2 linked regions of the Homo sapiens genome follow. The protein of the gene in region 1 purifies or fractionates together with the protein of each later gene. This does not show direct contact. Each region holds a gene or a part of one and is shown in the gene's direction. Other genes may lie near its edges.

The links.
Region 2: the proteins of KDM3A (region 1) and ARPP19 fractionate together in Homo sapiens (co-fractionation; one large-scale study listed by BioGRID). This does not show direct contact.

What each region holds. Positions count from the first base shown.
Region 1 is NC_000002.12:86,465,371-86,468,870, forward strand, and holds part of KDM3A (lysine-specific demethylase 3A), read left to right. Parts: intron 1-1,001; coding exon 1,002-1,513; intron 1,514-3,500. UniProt on the Homo sapiens protein: Histone demethylase that specifically demethylates 'Lys-9' of histone H3, thereby playing a central role in histone code.
Region 2 is NC_000015.10:52,549,288-52,552,030, reverse strand, and holds part of ARPP19 (cAMP-regulated phosphoprotein 19), read left to right. Parts: coding exon 1-97; 3' UTR 98-2,743. UniProt on the Homo sapiens protein: Protein phosphatase inhibitor that specifically inhibits protein phosphatase 2A (PP2A) during mitosis. Inhibition of PP2A is enhanced when ARPP19 is phosphorylated.

The sequences.
Region 1 (3,500 bases):
GCTGCCAGTTTGTTAGTTTTTTTTTAGTTTTTGAGGTTTTTTAGAGACAGGATCTTGCTCTGTTGCCCAGGAGGGAGTGCAGTTGCAGTGGTACAGTCAAAGTTTAAGTTTACTGCAGCTTTGAACTCCTGGGCTCAATTGATCCTCTTGCCTTAGCCTCCCAAGTAGCTGGGACTACAGGCGCGTGCCACCACACCAGGCTAATTTTTAATTTTTTTGTAGAGATGGGGGACTTGCTATTTTGCCCAGTCTGGTCATGAACTCCTGGCCTCTAGCAGTCCTCTCATCTTGGCCTCCCAGAATCCTGGGATTACAGGTGTGAGCCCTTGTGCCTTGCCCATTGTTCGTTTTTAATTAGATTTTGTGTGAATATCTTTGAAGGGATTTCTAACATTTTTTATATACGTATATATTTTAGAATTTTTATCTTGACACATTGACCTTTACTAGAGGTTCAATTTTTGACTCTTGGCAAGTAGCAAGAATGGAGTTTTATCTTTAAAATTCAAACATAATCTTTACTATAGAAGAAAGAGTTTTAGCAGAGGTTTCTCTGAAATTTACACACAAAAAAAAAAAAAAAAAAAGAAGAAAGAAAACTTTCGGAATTGCCCCTACACAGACTTCTGGTTTTGATACTTATAAACCAGCTTATCTGCTGAGTATATTCTTTGGTTTCATACAATATTTTGTTTTGAGGGAAAGCTAAGGTTCATTGTGCTGTGAGAAGTAGAACTAACGTAAGAAGTTAAAGATTTCTGAGAACGTGCAGACATAATTTAGGGTTGTATTTTTCTGAGTGTTTATGATTTTTGCAGAACCATTGACTGATGACTTTTAACTCTAGCTCACAGAAATCTATCCTAAATTCTGTAACATATGAGAAATTTTCTTTTTTCTTTCATACTCGTTACCTTAGGGAACCAAACAGTTTGTTTGGGGAAGATAATGGAGAGATAAAAAGAGGCCTGGATGCTAGCTTTCTATATTATATTTTTCAGATGTCATAAACAAAGTTTACCAGAGGAAATTTCTTCCTGTCTAAATACAAAGTCTGAAGCTCTGAGAACAAAACCAGATGTCTGCAAAGCAGGGTTGCTCTCAAAGTCCTCTCAGATTGGAACTGGAGACTTGAAAATTCTGACTGAGCCAAAAGGCAGCTGTACTCAGCCTAAGACAAACACTGATCAGGAAAACAGATTGGAGTCTGTTCCACAAGCATTGACTGGCCTTCCTAAGGAGTGCTTACCTACAAAGGCTTCTTCTAAGGCAGAATTGGAAATTGCCAATCCTCCTGAACTGCAGAAGCACCTAGAACATGCACCTTCCCCATCGGATGTTTCAAATGCACCAGAAGTGAAAGCAGGTGTCAATAGTGATAGCCCTAATAACTGTTCAGGAAAAAAGGTAGAACCTTCAGCTTTAGCTTGCCGATCACAGAATTTAAAGGAATCTTCAGTAAAAGTAGATAATGAAAGCTGTTGTTCAAGAAGCAACAATAAAATCCAGAATGGTGAGTGTTTCTCAATATCTTTATTGGTAGAAGGTAAGAAATGGTAGATATATATATCTCTTTCTTGTCCTATGAGAAACTATGTGAAAATGACTTTGTAGAAATAGTTTATACAGTCAGAAAAGTTGAAAGAAGGTATAATTCCCAAATCTCAGAAACGATTACTGTTAATATTTTGGTGTACCTGGTTTCATGTATATAGAAATACAGATAAACTGTATTACACAAATGGGTTCATGCCAATAATTTTACCCTGTGAATTAGTGTAGGTGTCTATTAGTATTTTAAAGCAAGGATTCCATTATGTTCATTTACCATAGGATTTAACTGGTTCCTATTAGGTGGGTAATTAGGTGGTTCCCAATTCTTAGGTTAAGAAAATTTTGAAACAAAATCTAAAGTAATCTGGTGTTTACTTTATTTCAGCTTGTCACTGATCTTTCTGTTACATCCAGGTTGGAGTAGGAAGAGGTGATCTGTGACAGGTAGCTAAGATTTGAAATTTTAGAAAAGATGCAGAATTGTATCATTTCTGGAAAAAGGACTTGGGTTAAAGATGTTACGGATAGGGCTGAACTACCAGGAAGAGTCTCTTTGCTTAAGGGGAGGTCCTGCTGCACCCACAATTTAAAACTACTCTTCTTATGGGGAAATTGGTACGTTGTACTTGATGCTACTTATATGAAGTTTGAGGATGCATTATAATGGTGGTAGTTATCAGAAGCTCTGTTACTAGAGTTAGAAGAACAAAATGTTTTCAGCATGTCAAAAGGTTTAGAGCTATTAGAATTTAAAGATGCCTTTTGATCACTGTTAGCTATGTGGGAAATTGATATGGATTTTGTTAATGTTTTAGGCTGGGCATAGTAGCTAACACCTGTAATCCTAATACTTTGGGAGACCACTGTGGGAGGATTGCTTCAGACCAGGAGTTTGAGACCAGCCTGGGCAACATAGTGAGACCCCATCTCCACAAAAAATTTTTTTAAAAATCAGCCAGGCATGGTGGGGCACACCTGTTATTCCTAGCTACTGGAGAAGCTGAGGCAGGGGGGTTGCTTGACCCCAGGAGTTGGAGGCTGCGGTGAGTTATGATTGTACCACTGTACTCTAGCCTGGGCAACAGAGTGAGAGCTTGGCTCAAAAAACAAACAAACGAAAACAACCTACGAAAACAATTTATTTATTTGGATCAGTAAAAATGAATATATCTACACTATCTTTTTAACTGCAGGCCTCTGTGAAATTAGAGGGCAAGATGGCTGGATTTGACTTGCGAATCTTTTTAGTATAGCATTGGAAGAATAGAAAGAACTTTCTTTGCCTAGCAATACTTCTAACCTAGCTTCTTCATTGAGGCTTAAGTTAATATAGCTGTTAATTTGCATAAAATTAATTGCATAAGATTATCCTGTTCTCAGAAATTAGGTAACACTCAAAAGAAAGTACATATTCATAACCATATCCTTGTTCTATTTGTTGTTTTTGAATCATCAGCTCTCACACACAGCTAGTTTTTGAAGCAAATTTAATATTATGTGACGAAACAGTAAAGATTCTAGTGCAATAAGCACATGATAGATACACAAGTGAGTTACGGAGTCCAGCTTTGTCTCATTTAATATGTTATGTAGCTATTCCCCATCTAATGGATTTTAAAAGAAGTGAAAAACTTACATCCTGGAGTAGCACATCCTGCTATCTACTGTGACTTTTTTTTTTTGGTTGAGGTGTGAGAGTGTGATCAGAAGCCTACCGGGACTTCTGAGCTGTGTCCACTAGTACTGCATGTTAGTACAGAAGGCTTGGAAAACTTTTCTGCTCCTTTCTTCCACTTGGGGTCTAGAAAACAAAAGCAAACTGGAGTCAAACAGCTGCCTTTTTTTCCGTTCAGATAGATACGTGGCTCCTCGGAAGTGGGCGTTGCATTTTTCTCTTGACTTGGCTTTGAATTCAGAGAATCACTGATGGTAGCACCTGTTGCTCT
Region 2 (2,743 bases), on another chromosome or scaffold:
TCCGGATAAGACGGAGGTCACTGGTGACCACATTCCCACTCCGCAAGACCTTCCTCAACGGAAGCCGTCCCTTGTTGCTAGCAAGCTGGCTGGCTGATTAAGAGGCTGAACTGCATGAATCTGCTAAATCTCATTATTTCTCCTTAATATGTTACTTATCTACTTTTTATTTCCTTTCATTCACTAGTCATTTGAGACTGACAGCTTTGCAGGTAGCAGTAGTGTGTGCTGCTATTGTGGAATATACGTGTGTAGAGTTTTTGATTAGTTTAACAGTGCACTGGTGAAGAGGACATGTTAGAGCAACATAAGTAAACTACTTGAAAATAGTTGTATATATTACCTAACTTCTAGTGTAGTACTGGTTCTAACAAGTAACAAGCAAGTTTTAAAATTTTAATGTTTTGGCTTTCATTACTTCATCTTAATTATAGCTTTGTATGTTACTCTTATTTAATATAATCTCTATTGTATTGATTTCTTCTGTATTTACCTTTTGGATTTTGTAAAACAGAAGTTTAAGACCACAAGTTAGAAGAAAGGTCACATATTTCAAACACAACTAGATGGGGCTCTGAAAGATTTGTATCTCTGTGCTTGAACTTGAATGGCCTTAAACCTGTTTCAGCTTTAACAGTAGAATTTTACTTGGGCAATATTTGCCCATTCTGGTGTAACTTATGTGACTCTAGTGCTTAACAGCTGCCGTTGAAGCTAATATTCAGTTCTGTAGAGTTAGAATACCTTTTGTTGTTGAAGATGTGAATGAAGTATGCATGTGCATTAACTGTTGAATTCACTTTTGTGCCATTTTTGTAAATACAGTAGTTTTGCACAACCTCTCACAAATGTCTGTATTAATTTCACATACTTAAAAAGTAGATAATGTGCCAACCAGAAGCACAAGAGTTCCTACACAAAACTCTGTAAATCATTATAGCTTTTGTATAATAAGAGTAGTTTACAATCTCGGGCTTATAGAATACCAAACTGAAATCTTAGTTCAATCTGCCATAGACTTAAGCTTTTCATTTGTTACTAATATCCATGACATTCAGTGGCCTTGTGCAAATACGATATGTTGCTTAGGCATATCTTTTGTCCTATGCAGAACCTTTCATTTTGATTTTTATGAAAGTTGCAATTCATGTAATTTATATAAACTTTTTAAATGTAGAAACTTTTTACTTCCACACTCAGTTTTGGAGACCCTAGAATAAAAGGCTTCAATACTCTGCATTCCATGCCCTCTGCCACCTGCTTTTTTTTCCCCTTTGTTCTTTGACTCAAATGGTATTGAGCTGTTTGTTGTATATGGAAGCATAGGTGTCTATATCCTTACTCTTTTATATAACACAATAATGGCGTTTTCCTTCTAATTTCTCAGTTGTTAACTTCTTTCTCTTTTTTTTTTAGGATAGGGCCTTGCTCTGTCACCTGAGCTCTAGTGCAGTAGTGCAATCACAGCTCACTGCAACCTTACTCCTAGGCTCAAGTTAACTATTCTTGATCCTTTATTATTACTAATATTCTACAATTGTTTAAATAAAAGGAACTTTATAATGAAACGGTTCGGAATACTGGCTCAAGAACCTATGTCAAGATGAGCTGAATTTTGGTAAATTATTTTAGGAATTATGACAAGCTAATTGAATTAGGCTTGTGACAATTAGAGTAATTTACATGACAGGTAAAACTCCTATTAAAAATGTTTAGATGTTTGCTTCTGTAGATGTCACTTTAGTAAAATACCAATTTAGTTTTACTTGTGGCTTATCTAGTTAGAACTTAGCAGACTTTACTGGGACAAGTTTACTGCTCTTGTAGGAGCTCCTCTCACAAGTAGTTGTAATGCTGTAGCATGATACTCAGGATCAGTAGCTTGAGATGCTACTATTTTTCTCTTCATCTTTGACTTGCAGAGAGCCTCCCGTTTTTGGATCCAGGCATCTTTTCTGAATCCTGGTTCCATCAGTATACCTGCTCTCCTATGACCCCAAATCATAGTCAATGGTGCCTCAAACATAGCACCTTAAGTTAAAGGCTGCCTAGTGCTCTGAGGAAAGCTTGCTGATTATCTTCCTGATCTACTCACCCCAAAAGGCAGAAAAGCAACACAGTCACTGCTGTGGTCATTTGTAATGTAAAGATCAGTTATATATATATATTTGTAATGAGAGCAAGTATATACTCATTATAGAATCAATTTAAGAAGTTTAAAATAACCCAGAGTAGAATTTCTATATCTAGTCTTGGTTTTTTTCATGAATATTTGCAAGTAATTACCATTAAATTCACACATGAAAGATTAATCTGAAAGATCAGAGACCATGTTATTCCTGACCACGATAGAACTGCTCCTGTGGTTTGGGACAAGTAATAAAACAACTGCTTGAGTTTTGTTTGTAAAATACATAATTAATATTTGACCTACCTCAAAATGTATTGAGGATCTGTGAAATGCTAAGTGCCCAAAATAAAATATTGCTGATTGTCTTTTTATTAAAAGTAAATTTCCTCATTAAGCCAACCTGCCTTCTGTAAGTCACAGTGCTTAAATCTCAGGATTTTTCATTAGGAGAGACCTGTCGTTAAGGATTTGTAGGTATAATTGCTTAGCCTCCATTATTGGTGCTTGGGATAGAGAGGTTTTAGATTTTTGTTTTTTTTTTGTTCTGCCTCAAAGCTCAGTTTATTGAAGACATTTGTAAGCTATTGGATCATCACTTGAATCAAGATTTTG